Linked DNA regions of Homo sapiens. The protein of the gene in region 4 purifies or fractionates together with the protein of the main gene of each other region. This does not show direct contact. Each region holds a gene or a part of one and is shown on either strand. Other genes may lie near its edges.

Evidence for each region. Proteins that work in one complex are often made in the same cells at the same time.
Region 1: the proteins of GRAMD2B (region 4) and TXNDC15 purify together in Homo sapiens (affinity purification with mass spectrometry; 3 studies listed by BioGRID and IntAct, with this or other methods). This does not show direct contact.
Region 2: the proteins of GRAMD2B (region 4) and GRAMD1C purify together in Homo sapiens (affinity purification with mass spectrometry; 3 studies listed by BioGRID and IntAct, with this or other methods). This does not show direct contact.
Region 3: the proteins of GRAMD2B (region 4) and EFCAB14 purify together in Homo sapiens (affinity purification with mass spectrometry; 3 studies listed by BioGRID and IntAct, with this or other methods). This does not show direct contact.

Annotation. Positions count from the first base shown.
Region 1 is NC_000005.10:134,884,371-134,887,870, forward strand, and holds part of TXNDC15 (thioredoxin domain-containing protein 15 isoform 1 precursor), read left to right. Parts: intron 1-3,324; coding exon 3,325-3,500. UniProt on the Homo sapiens protein: Acts as a positive regulator of ciliary hedgehog signaling. Involved in ciliogenesis.
Region 2 is NC_000003.12:113,901,288-113,904,787, reverse strand, and holds part of GRAMD1C (protein Aster-C), read right to left. Parts: intron 649-3,500; coding exon 516-648; intron 1-515. UniProt on the Homo sapiens protein: Cholesterol transporter that mediates non-vesicular transport of cholesterol from the plasma membrane (PM) to the endoplasmic reticulum (ER).
Region 3 is NC_000001.11:46,677,887-46,681,114, forward strand, and holds part of EFCAB14 (EF-hand calcium-binding domain-containing protein 14), read right to left. Parts: intron 751-3,228; coding exon 575-750; 3' UTR 1-574.
Region 4 is NC_000005.10:126,422,164-126,426,208, reverse strand, and holds the start of GRAMD2B (GRAM domain-containing protein 2B), read right to left. Parts: upstream 2,801-4,045; 5' UTR 2,603-2,800; coding exon 2,520-2,602; intron 1-2,519.

The DNA.
Region 1 (3,500 bases), 8.5 Mb from region 4:
CCCAAAAAGCTGGGATTACAAGCATGCGCCACCACGCCAGGCTAATTTTGTATTTTTAGTAGAGATGGGGTTTCTCCATGTTGGTCAGGCTGGTCTCGAACTCCCGACCTCAGGTGATCTACCCGCCTCAGCCTCCCAAAGTGCTGAGATTACAGGTGTGAGCCACCGAGCCCGGCCAATTTGATTGTTTTTATTTTTATTTAGTTATTTTTTTGAGACAGGGTCTCACTCTTTCGCCCAGGCTGGAGTGCAATGGCTTGATCTTGGCTCACTGCAACCTCTGCCTCCCAGGTCGATTTGATATTTTTAATATCTTATATCTTGATATCTACTTTACTTTTTGAATGCAATACAGTTACAATTATTGTTTTAATATCCTTGTCTGCTAATTGTGACATGGGTGCAAGTTCTGGGTCAGTGTGGCTTGATTGATTATTCTCATTATGTGTCCTATTTTCCTGCTTCCTTATATGTCTGATAATTTTTTACTGGATGCCAGACATGAATTTTACTTTGTTGAATGCTGGATATTTTAGATTCCCTATACATATTCTTTTTTTTTTTTTTTCTGAGACGGATTTCTCTCTTGTTGCCCAGGCTGGAGTGCAGTGGCATGATCTCGGCTCATTGCAACCTCCACCTCCTGGGTTCAAGTGATTCTCCTGCCTCAGCCTACCGAGTAGCTAAAATTACAGGTGCCCGCCACCATGCATGGCTAATTTTTATATTTTAATAGAGACAGGGTTTCACCATGTTGGTCAGGCTGGTCTCAAACTTCTGACCTCAGGTGATCCACCCACCTCGGCCTTCCAAATTGCTGGGATTACAGGCGTGAGCCACTGCACCTGGCCCCGTATATATATTCTTGAGCTTTGTTCTGGGGTACAGTGAAGTTACTTGAGAACAGCTTGATTCTTTCAGGTTTTGCTTTTAAGCAAGCAAGCTGTTATTTTCTTTAGGGTTAATAGTGTCCCACTACTGACGCAGGTCCTTTTGTATACTCTACTCAATACCCTGTGAATTATGAAGTTTTTCAGTCTAGCTGGTAAGAAGAGGTACCATTCCCTGCTCTGTGTGAATGTTGGGTACTGTTCCTTCCCATCCTTTCTGGTAGTTCTTTCTCTGGCACTGGGTAGTTTACTCACATGCATGTGATGACCCGTACCCTGCTGTATACTTGGGGGGGCCTCTGCAGATCTCTGGAGTCCCCTCTCTAGATAGCTCCTCTCATCTGCAGTATTCTGTCTTGCAAACTATGGCTTCTTGGTCTCCTTGGACTCTTAGCTCCATCTCCTCAACTGGGAGAGTCTGCTGGGCTCTGCCTGGATTTCCCCTCCCTGAGCCACAGTGGGAACGCCATCAAGGCAGTAAGTTGGAGCAGTTGTAGGGTTCTCTTCATTTGTCGCCTGTTTCTCGGATGTCACTATCCTCTGTTGCCTCATAACTGATTTCCTGAAACTGTTGTTTTATATATATTATCTATTTGGTTGTTTCAGTAGGTAAGGTAAATCTGGTTCTTGTTACTCCATCTTGGCCAGAAGCAGAATTCCCAGATAATGTTTTTGAATCTCTGAATGAATCCACAGAGCTCTATGCCCTAGTGTGAGGTAGATCAGTAGGGTAACTGTAGTTCATAATAGCCTATTGTATATTTTAAAATAGCTAGAAGAGAAGAATTTGAATGATTCTAGCATGAAGAAAAGACAAATATTTAAGGTGATGGATATCCCAAATACATTGATCTGATCTTTACAAATTGCATGAATATATTGATTATCACATGTGCTTTGTGATTATCACATGTACATCTGTTATGCATCAGCAACAACAAAAAGCTCTACAGGGATATTCTTTGAAATCTTATACAAATGTGCATACCTGAGGAAGCCCCCAGACCTTCCCAACTTTGAAGTCAGTTGGTCACTGACACTCCAGTGACATGCTGTTGGCACGCAGAACTCATCACCCAGCGGGTGGTTTCTTAACCACATGGTGAGCTTTCGTGAGGGCTGCTGGCCTCACTGGTTTCTGCTGGTTGGTGCCTGGCACAAAGTCTGGCAGCTGGTGTTGAGTTGATGAGTTGGAGGGCAGGAGGCATTGCTATGGAGGTGAGTGGAGTTGGGTAAATAGATGTACGAGACTACCTGGGACTCTTCCCTTATCTGAGCATTATGCTCAAGACCCACCTTCTAGCTCCAAAGTGGGGGAAAGTTCTCTTCTTCCTCCTGCTGCTGCCTCTGCACTGCCGAGCCCATCTCCCAGCACTCCCAAGGGCAGCAGCCCAAGGGTGGCAGGCAGGAGAGCAGAGTCCAGCTGTCAGAGGCCACCTCAGGAAGGAGCTGCTGTGTGGCTTGAACAGTGTTCTTCAGGCAGTGTGGCTCAGCATCCCCGAGGTATCATGGCAGGGAGCCTACGGCTCGTTCTGGAGTAGCAGCCAGAAAACTTTGCTCGCAGACTTGGCTTTGCTGCTTACTATCTGTGTACCATCGGACACTGTGCTGAGCCTCTCTGTGCCTTGCCTCGTTACCTGTTCAGTGGTCTTGGTAACCCTTGTCTTGCCCATCTCACAGGACTGTTATAATGTGTGCAAAGATGCTTTGTTCTAGTAGAATCTTGCATAAAACCATGATCCTTTTCTTGGATATTATCAAACAAATGAAACTCTTATCAAAAAATGAAAGTGTTTATATTCTATTTTCCTAATGAGATATCTGAACTGGAATGTTTTTGGTTATAATCCACATGGCAAGCAGCAAGTTTAGGGCAGAGCTGTGTGTTTGTCTATTATTTGACATTCATTATTTTGTTTGCTTGTTTGTTTGTTTGTTTTTTGAGACGGAGTCTTGCTCTGTCGCCCAGACTGGAGTGCAGTGGCGCAGTCTTGGCTCACTGCAACCTCCGCCTCCTAGGTTCCAGCAATCCTCTTGCCTCAGCCTCCCTAGTAGCTGGGATTACAGGTGCCTGCCACCATGCCCGGCTAATTTTTATATTTTTAATAGAGACAGGGTTTCACCATGTTGGCCAGGCTAGTCTTGAACTCCTGACCTCAAGTGATCCACCTGACTTGGGGCCTCCCAAGGTGCTAGAATTACAGGTGTGAACCACCATGCCCGGCCTTCTTTGACATTCATTAATTTATTAATAGTACCTGCTTGTGACCTTCTTCCTAACCTGGGAAATGGTGAGTAGCTCTCTGATAGTTTAATGAAAGGAGACCTTTTTGTCTCCAGAGGGGAAAATTTCGTGTTAGAGGGGAACTGTAATTCTTTGGGGTTCATTTGTTTTGAAGTCAAATATGACTCTGAATGTGCTGGCATGTTTTAGTTGCAGAGGAAAGTGGTCGCTTATGGTCAGAGGAGCAGCCTGCTCACCCTCTCCAGGTGGGGGCTGTGTACCTGGGTGAGGAGGAGCTCCTGCATGACCCGATGGGCCAGGACAGGGCAGCAGAAGAGGCCAATGCGGTGCTGGGGCTGGACACCCAAGGCGATCACATGGTGATG
Region 2 (3,500 bases), on a different chromosome or scaffold from region 4:
AGAAACTAAGTAATTGAGTATAATGCCTAGTAGTTAACTGGACCTGCCTGCTTAAAAAGCTTAAAAAGCAGCTATTGTTACTCAAGCATGCTGCTCAGGGGCTCATCTCTCCCTTCAAAACAGATTCTTTCTCCATGCTGTTCCCTTCTGTGAAAGAAAGAAAGAAAAAAAAAAAAACAGATTCTTTCCAGCACACACAGTACTTACCCTGGGGAAAATTCTGCTACTTACAAATTTCTCCATCTTATTATTCTTTTAATGATATTTATCCCCCTACAGACTGATGCCCAGGTAAAACTGCTCGGTAGCTCTGCTTTTTATATAGCTCTGAACAAAACCACATATTTTCCCACATAATCTCTGCTACTAACAGACTTTAAACTTTTTTCCTAAAATAAGGTAGGAGTCTGATATCTTATTTTTAACATTTTGTATACTGTATCCTTATTTATCTTGTATTCTGATTAGGACATGACAGTACCAGATATATTTTAAAAGGGATATCATATACTAACTCCTTTTGATGAATTTCCATCGAATGACTCTGTTTCTGAAACCCGACTAATTGATTCACTGGTAAAACTGATTGACTTGGATAATTTTTCATCTCTCTCCCCAGAGTCATCCAAGCTGCTTCTTCCTGGACTTCTGTAAGAAACACATCATTATAGAAATATAAGGTCACCTCCACACAAATAAATGATTTGGTCTCCTCACTGAGGTCATTTCCTATGATAAAACAGTTTGATAATAAATGGACTACTGTAATATAGCAAATAAATGTTTACTTATAACAAGGCTATCTTCTTAAATTACATGCAAGTTGATATCATTTCTGAAAACAAGATACACTCACATGGGATTCTATAAATCTCAAAAACATTAAAAAATTAACAAAGTACAAATGGCCGTAACAGTAACTAATCAAATGAAAATTGCTCCTTTAAATTTCATTTGTGTACAACCACAAAGCTTGGACAGGTACAGAGTAGATGTTTGAGTTAGATACTAGATCGCACAAGAAGGCAGTTTTATATCTCCTTCCTTCTGACTCAGTCTCAGCTGAAATGGCGAAGCCCTCCCAGAAGTGGACGCTCAAGATGTCTGAGCCTAAGCCCATTGGCCACTCCTGCCTCCTCACTCTTCCCAGCCCTAAGAACAAGGTTTAAGAAACAGCTGTCAAATGATCATATGGCCAAGACTATAATAAATGTCCTGGGATCTGCTTTCCCTTTCTCAAGGAGCAAAAAGAAAGGAAAACCTATTAAATACAATGGGAGCACAACTGATCTAATTTCCAATGCTCAACAGGATGGAGGTGAGATGTGGAAAAACAGAGAGGAAAGGAGGAGGAAGAAGGAAGGAGAGATTGCAAATAAAGAGGAAGAAGATGGAAGAACCGAGGAAATAAAGGTTTGAAACAGATATGCTTCTTTCAGAGACTGAAGAACAGGAAAAGAAGTAGAAGAGAGAATGAGGATCCTGCCACACACTTTCTTAGAAAGCATTCAGGCCGACCGGGCATGATGGCTCATGCCTGTAATCCCAACACTTTGGGAGGCTGAGGTGAGCTGATCATGAGGTCAAGAGATCGAGACCATCCTGGCCAACATGGTGAAATGCCGTCTCTACTAAAAAAAAAAAAAAATGCAAAAATTAGCTGGGCGTGGTGGCACGCACCTGAAGTCTCAGCTACTTGGGAGGCTGAGGCAGAAGACTCGCTTGAACCCGGAGGCAGAGGTTGCAGTGAGCCAAGATCACGCCACTGCACTCCAGCCTGGTGACAGAGTGAGACTCCATCTCCAAAAAAAAAAGAAAGAAAGAAAAGAAAAAAAGAAAGCATTCAGGCCAGGTGCAGTGGCTGACACCTGTAATCCCAGCACTTTGGGAGGCCGAGGCAGGGTGGATCACTTAAGGTCAGGAGTTCAAGACCAGCCTCATCAACATGGCAAAATCTCTACTGAAAATACAAAAAGTAGCCAGGCGTGGTGGTGGGCACCGCAATCCCAGCTACTTGGGAGGCTGAGGCAGGAGAATCGCTTGAACCCAGGAGGCGGAGGTTGCAGTGAGCCAAGATCGCACCACTGTGCTCCAGCCTGGGTGACAGAGTGAGACTCAGTCTCAAAAAAGAAAAAAAAGAAAGCATTCAATCGCCAGAAGAAAACAGCAGCTAGTCAAAAATATTCTTTCTTTCCTCAAAGACTAGAAACTTTTCAAGTTGGCAAGGACCTTAAAGATAATCTAGTTCAGCTGCCTCATTTCATAGACGAGAAAACTGAGAATCAAAAAAATGAAAAGATTTGCCTGAGGTTGCTCGGCTGTTTGGTGACCCTAACTAAGATCCAGATCCTGTTTACCATAATCCAAGGCTCTTTGCATTAGAGTAACTGCTTTTCTATCCAAATCCAGAGCCGGCAAGAGGCTACTAAACTTCTCAAGGAGAACAATACAATGGAAATTTTTAACTTTACAGAAAGCTAATAAAATATACATGTGCAACCATGTAAAAAAGCCTATAAAATACTGATGCTAAGCTGAAAAGATATAAATTGGATCAGCATAAGTAGATTACCTAGATGAGTAAAATTTCTGCACATACTTTGAGACTTTCAAAATATTTCCATTTTAAGATTTGCTATAGAATTTCTAAATAACAGCTTTTAAGATATAATCCACACACCACAAAATTCACTTCATGTAAAGTGTACAATTTAGTGGGTTACAGAGTTGGGCAACCATCACCACTAACTAATTGTAGAACATTGTCATCACCCCAACAAAGAAATGCTTTGCAGTCACTTGCAGTCACTCCCCATTCTCCCTTCCTATCAGCTCCTGGCAACTACCATTTACTTTCTGTCTCTATAAACTTACCAGTTCTAGACTCCATTTCACATACATGGAATCATACAATATATGGCCTTTTGTGACTGGCTTTTTTCACTCAGCATAATGTTTGCTATAGAATTTTAATGTATTCTCCTTAATTGTTTTTATTGCTAACAGCCTCAATTTCCACTGGACATAATGCACTTTTACTTGTAGAGGTTAATAAAAATGTCCACTCTTCTAAATGAATCCTCATCAGTCAAAAATAGTCTCTCTGTACTCTTAATTTCTTTATCACATTATCTGTTACTCTGTTATGACTCTTACCATTATCGACCTTGTATTACAATTATTTGCATTCCACGGTAGGCTATATGCTCCTTCCATTAATGTATTCAATATTTATGGAGTGCCAACCACATGCTAAGCACTATGTTAGGGAATTCCTGAGGAAAAATCATGTTATTGTATCCTTCAAAACACCTACCATATAATTTACTTTACTGTCATCTATAAACTCAGAGATTTCACTAGGTACTTCTCCAGATCCTTAATAAACAGGCTTACTAAAACCAGACTTTAAGTCTACCCTAAGTGACATAGCCAACATTTCCTTATATATCTCATATGTGCTTACCTATTTAGCAAACTATTCTCTGTCCCCACCTTTC
Region 3 (3,228 bases), on a different chromosome or scaffold from region 4:
CATGGATGTAGTTTCAGCTGCCACCTACACCAGATCAGCAATTTTTAATAAGTCATTTGTTCATATCCTGTTCAAAACCATTCTTCCTACTTTCCACACAATATGCACAATGCTTTCTTTCATTTAAATATTTACAAACAGAAAAGGCCTATCTTTTAAAGAAAAGACATTTTCTGAGTCTCTATAAAGTGCAGCTAATTTAAGGCAAATTTAAGTGAAATATAAAAGTGGCTTATTCTCTCTCTATATACATTTCCCAGCTTTAAAAGATAAGGTCTCCTCCCCTCAAAAAAAGGAAAGAGAAAAAAAGAGGGCTTTAATTTTTTTTCTGGCAATTTTAAAATGTAAGATCTTACTGGTTGTAGGAAATCATAGATTTCTGAACATCATAAGTAAAATGGTCTTCTTCTTTAAAAAAATAACTTTTATATAGCTTCTTCAAACAAGTTAAAAGGTGGCAAAGTATCTGCTACAGTAGTTTGGAGGACTAGAGGACTGATGGGTAAGTAAGGGTTGTTTTGTTGTTAGGTAAATAGATATTAGGCAGTCCATTTCTAAAATATGCCTGATGAAGCTAGATACCTAAAGCTACCCTTAGCTCCAGGAATGAGTATCTTCCATCTCCATCGGAATCAAATGCTCTCAAGCTCTCTGGTTCTGGCATAGCAGAACCTAGGGAGGTCCAGATTTCCTGGTAGGTCAGCTTCCCATCCACGTCCTGGCCAGTCTTGCGGAATAAATCCTGAAGATCTGTCAAAAATGAATTACAAAAAATGTATACGTCTAAACATACAGCTAAATTTAGTTAAAAGTAGTCTCAACTGAATTTAAAACACTAAAAGAAAAGCTACTCCGCAAATTTTGTTTCCAAATGGTAAAGTTTAGGATTTCACTAAATCAGGAAGACTAATTTTTGATCCCTTAAAAATATATTAAAAAAAAAAAAAAAAAAAAGGCTGGGTGCAGTGGCTTATGCCTATAATCCCAACACTCTGGGAGGCTGAGGCAGGAGGATTGCTTGAGGCCAGGAATTTGAGACCAGCCTGGGCAACACAGTGAGACACTGCCAAAGTAGAAGCAGTGACAGATAATCGCAGGAGAATGAATGGTCTCATCTTCTCTCTGTCCAGCGTCTTCCCTTTAGATTTTCCTGAATTTATTCTTATGTTGAAGGGGTGAAAAGGAATGCAGAGGCCTAATGAGTTATGTGATAGGAGCTAGCTCATAAAACAGACTGTGGCATATTGTGAGATTTCTTGTTGGATGGCTGAGTGGAGACTGGAGGAATGACTTGGAAGCCCATAAAACAATCCCAAACACTCATAGCTTTCTCAGTTTTGACAGGAAATCCAAAGCTCAAAGAGGAAAGTAACTTGCCTACGGTCATGTAACTCTTAAGTGGAATACAATACAAATTTCTTTTCTTTTTTTTGAAGCTAAGTCTCACTCTGTCGCCCACGCTGGAGTGCAGTGGCGCGATCTTGGTTCACTGCAACCTCTGCCTCCTGGGTTCAAGTGATTCTTGTGCTTCAGCCTCCTGCGTAGCTGGGATTACAGGCGCCCGCCACCACGCCCAGCTAATTTTTTTTAATGTTTAGTAGAGATGGGGTTTCACCATGTTGGCCAGGCTGGTCTTGAACTCCTGACCTCAGGTGATTCGCCCACCTGGGCCTCCCAGAGTGCTGGGATTATAGGCGTGAACCACCACGCCTGTTTTTTTTTTTTTTTTTTTTTTTTTTTTTTTGGTGGAGTCTTACTCTGTCACCCAGGCTGGAGTGCAGTGGTATGATCTTGGCTCACTGCAACCTCTGCCTCCTAGGTTCAAGCTATTCTCCTGCCTCAGCCTCCTTAGTAGCTGGCATGACAGGTGTGTATCACCAGGCCTGGCTAATTTTTGTATTTTTAGTAGAGATGCGGTTTCATCATGTCGGCCAGGTCTCTAACTCCTAGCCTCAAATGATCTGCCCACCTCAGCCTCCCCAAAGTGCTAGGACACCACACCTGGCCTAGAATACAAATTTCTTATTACCTAGTCCAGTGCTCTTTCTACTATGTGACACTTGTCTCTCTGGATCCAGAAATTAAGCAGCTCAAGAACCAGTGACTCAAAAGTGTAATGAGATACCATGTCATAATCACTACGATGGCTATAATAAAAAAAGACAGGCCTTACCAAGCATTAGGGAGGATGTGGAGAAAGTGGATTGAACCCTCACACATTGCTGATGGGAATGTAACATGGTACAGCCACTCTGGAAAAGTGTAGGAGTTCCTCAAAAAGTTAGGGCTATCATATGACCCATTAATTCCATTCCTAGGTATATATATACTCAAGGCAAATGAAAACATATGTTTACATAAAAACTTGCACATGAATGTTCATGGCAGCATTACTCTTAATAGCCCAAAAGTGAGAACAATCGAAATGTCCATCAACGGATGAACAGACCAAAATGTGTTAGGTCAACAGAATGGAATATTATTCAGCCATAAAAAGGAACGAAGTACTGATACATGCTCCAACATGAATAGACCATAAAAACATTATGCTAAGTGAAAGAATCATATTGAAAGAAAAAGCACACACAAGGCCACATACTGTATGATTCCATTTATGTGAAACACCCCAAATAGGCAAATCCATAGAGATAGTGATTAAGAGACTAGTGGTTGCTGGAGACTGGCAGGAGAGGGGACTGGGAGTGACTGTTTAATGGGTACAGAGATTCTGTGAGGGGTGATGAAAATGTTCTGGAATTAGATAGTGGTGATGGTTGCATGACCTTGTGAATACACTAAAAAACACTGGATTAAAAACACTGCATTTTAAAAAGGTGAATGTTATGGTATGTGAATTGTATTTCAATAAAAAAGAACCAGAGGAATTATCTCTCCAAAGTGCATGCTCTCTACTTTTTAAAAATCAGTAAAAAGAAAAAGAGCAATATTACCAGTTGATCTGTATCTTTTTTATTTCAATGGCAATATTGAGCCAAAATGATTAGAGAATGTCTATCAATAGTTTCTTCTGGCATTTTCTCAAGGGCCTCATCACAAACACTTAGGAAGGTCAGTTATATACATAACTTTTTTTTTTTTTTTGAGACAGGGTCTCCCTCTGTCACCCAGGTTAGAGTGCAGTGGCATGATCACAGCTCACTGTAGCCTCAAACTTTTAGGCTCAGGCTATTCTCCCGAGTAGCTGGGATTACAGGGTGTGCGCTACCA
Region 4 (4,045 bases):
ATATCACTTCTTTTTTTGAATTTTATAAGAAATATATTTTTAAATTATTTTAAAATTAATATTATTTTTAATTGACAAATCATAATTGTTTACATTTATGGGGTACAGGGTAATGTTTTGGTATATGTATACAATGTGGCATGATTAAATCAAGCAACATACCTATGGTCTTGCTTACCTATCATTTTTTATGGTGAGACATTTGAAATTTACTCTTAGTTATATTGAAATATACAACATATTATTATTCACTAATCTCCTTGCTGTGCAATAGAACTCAAAACTTATTCCTCCTAACTGAAACTTCGTACCCTCTGATCAACTCCCTATTCCCTCCTTCCCCACCCTTTCTACCTTCCAGCGCCTGGAAACCACCATTCTACTCTCTATTTCTATGAATCCAACTTCTAAATTTATTTTTAAATTAAATTAAATTTTAGTTTTGAGACAGGGTCTCACTCTGTGTCCAGGCTGGAATGTAGTGGCATGAACATGGCTCACTGTAGCCTCAACTGCCTGGGCTCAAGAGATTCTCCCACCTCAGCCTCCCGAGCAGCTGGGACCACAGGTGTGCGCCATCATGCTTAACTTATTTTTTTTTGTCTGTAGAGACAGGGTCTCACTTTGTTGCCCAGGCTGGTTTTAAATTCCTGGGCTCAAGTGATCCTCCAGCCTCGGCCTCCCAAAGTGTTGGGATTATGGGCATGAGCCACAGTCCCTGCCTGGCCTGAGTCAACTTTTTCAGATGTCACACTTAAGTGAGAACATGCAGTGTTTGTTTTTCTATTCCTGGCTTATTTTGTCTAACATACGTCCTCTAGGTTCATCCATGTCACAAATGATCTTTCTTTTTAAAGGCTGAATAATATTGTGTATATATACCACATTTTCTTATCCCTTTATCCATTGATAGACACTTAGATTGATTTCGTATCTTGTGTATATAGCACATTTTCTTATCCATTCATCTGTTGATGGACACTTAGGTTGATTTCATATCTTGGCTATTGTGAGTAATGTGCAATGAACATGGGAGTGCTGCATATCACTCCTTTAAGTATAGGGCTGCTAGTATGATTGTTTGGCTATAAAAGATGTGCATGCTGACTAGTATTAGGAAGTGAGGTTGCAATGGTCTGTGTGGGTCCAGATCATGAAGGATCTTAAAATCTTGGCAGAGAAGCCTATTTTTAAGAGTAGGCCATGGAAGGCCATCATAGATTCTGGAACAGAGGAACCAGTGTACAGCATAGTGGTTCTAAGTTCATGCTGTAAAGTTAGGAGACCTGGGCTTGAATCCTGGCTGCTCTTTTATTAACTTTGTGACTCTGCCTAGCTGCTTAGCTTCTCAGAGCTTCAGTGCTTTTATCTGCAACATGGAAATAATAGCACCTGCCTCATTCTTTGTGAGAATGCATTTAAAGTATTGAGCACACTCCCTGTCACATAGTAAGCATTCTCAGTAAGTGCCAGCTACTATTATTTAGGAGGCTAAGGCTCTAGGTGATGAGGTCTACATGGGTGCAGTTACAGACGCAGGGAAATTGTGAGGAGCAAGTCATTCTAATCCTCTTAGAAGAAATGTCCATGGGGACACCCAGACTTCAACAAGACTTTGAGCCTAGTGATAATTAATGTAAGTTATGAAGTTCAAAACAGAAGTTAGACCGGGTTTCTAAGCACAAAAATTTGGCAACTTAAAATGATTTCAAAGTGGAATTATCACATCAGTATAACCTTATGATAATACATATCCCTCCTTCCTAAATTACTCATATCCTGATACCAGAACAAGAGTTTTAGAGCTCAGAAGGGTTAGTGTCTAAAATCATAGACTGAATTAGAAGTGACTTCAGTAGGCTTAGAAAATACCACTTTGTAGGAAAAAAACAACCTCTCCTCCCAAACCAATTTTACCAAAGACTGCAAAATAGATAAATATTTTAAAAGTAGAGAAGACTCAATTATAGGCTAAACTCTTTATCATACCTTGTCTGTGTGTTTAATGTGGCAATGGTCACCAAAGTCCCTTGAAGTACAGTAATATTCATTTGTGCCTCCCCCATCCCCACTCTGCTCTTGAAGTTCCAGAAGGGCAGATCCAAAATAACATTTATCCTTGTATTGCCCATCGTTATTGAACAAGTAGATACTCAATTATTTGCTGAACTAAAATGAATTTGTGAAAATGGTCATTCTAAACGAAGGGCTGTGTTGGGACTTTGAGCTTCAATGTGGTTAGGCTTATTTTCTACAAAATTATTTTCCCAACATCCAGTGAGTTTTGAATTAAGAGAATTTGTTTAAATCCTACAGTAGACTTTTCAATCAATCTAAACCATCTCCTTAACTGAATATCTAGACAGAGAGAGAGAGTGAGAGACAGAGAGAGCGCGCCACAAGATTGTCCATATAGGAGCTCCAGAAATCCGCATCCACCCAAAATGCGTCCCGGGGCAGAGAAGTTTAGGCTGCGCTCCTCCCACCTCCTTGGATGGGTCCCAGCTGAGAATACTCACTGGGCTGAGCCAAGTTTGCTCTCCCTCTTCCCGAGCACTTTCGCAGGCTTTGTGTCTTCCACATCTTGCTGTAGTTCAGTCATCGGGGCCGTGTCTGGAGGGCACCTTCAGACTTCCGCGCGCCTGGCTCTGCCCCGGCTCGTCCCGGCTTCTAGGTCCGGGTGCGCAGGCCAAGCAAGCGGCGCCGTGCCCTCCCCTGCACCCTCCGCCCAGCGCATCCAGGCCGGGCCGCGCCAAGCTCCCGGGGCCGCGGACCTGGACACGTCGGAGCGGGCGCGATTGGTCCGACCCACTGTGGAAAAGCCGAGAGGGAGGGAAGGGGAGGGTCGAAGCGAAGTGACAGCCTCTTTCCCCAACCCAGGAGGCAGAGAAGAGAAAAAGGAAACCTGTTGAACGAGTCTTTCGGGAGAGGAAGCTAATTGGCCAAGCAGGTGGAACATTTGCCTAAGAAGGCACAATCTGTTTAGCCTCCTGGTAAATTAAGCTTTTTGTTTTCTATCCCGACTGTAACAGGGGGATTTTTAGAGGGCAGCCGGCTCTAGATACCGGAAATGGAGACGTCTGAGTGGGACGCCCTGTCACACAAATGCGCTGTGTGGGCTGGCCTATGCCCCATCCTAAATTATTCAAACAGGATATTGCTTCATTGAGGGACTGCCTCTTCTGCTTAAACAATAGGTCTGCTCAATTTTTTATGTGGGAATAACAAAGGTAATAAGTAGTTGCCTTTGGTGGTGTTTTGGTTAACCCTTCATCGTTCTGGGGTGGGGGGGGTGGTTAGAGGGGCAAAGAAGAAGCAACCATCAAAATCTTCAAATATTGGGTTATGACTGTTCTCATCAAAATCAAAATTGGTGTTTGATAATTCCCAAGCCGTCTCTTTGTTGCCCATAGTTGTGCAAGTACCTTATTTACTATGCACTCAACCAGTACCGTGAATGCCTCTTCTTCCCACCTTTTGGTGACATTTTGACTTGCCTGTTCTAAGGTTTTGTATTGGAAGCATTCACTCATTCATTCATTGAACAAACTTTTGAGAGCTACAAAGTTCCAGGCATTGTTCTCAATCAGGGGTGTCCAATCTTTTGGCTTCCCTGGGTCACATTGGAAGAAGACGAACTGTCTTGGGCCACACATAAAATATACTAACACTAAGGATAGATGATGAGCTTTAAAAAAGGTCTGTGCAGGGGCCAGGCACGGTGGCTTACGCCTGTAATCCCAGCAGTTTGGGAGGCCGAGGCGGGTGGATCATTTGAGGTCAGGAGTTCGAGACTAGCATGGCCAACCTAGTGAAACCCCATCTCTACTAAAAATACAAAAATTAGCTGGGTGAGGTGGCGCAGGCGCTTGTAATCCCAGCTATTTGGGAGGCTGAGGCAGGAGAATCACTTGAGCCTGGGAGATGGAGGTTGTGGTGGGCCAAGATGCACCACTGCACTCCAGTCTGGGCAACAGAGTGAGACCCTGTCTCAAAAAAAAAAAAAAAATCCGTGCATAAATGTCACCATGTTATAAGACAGTTT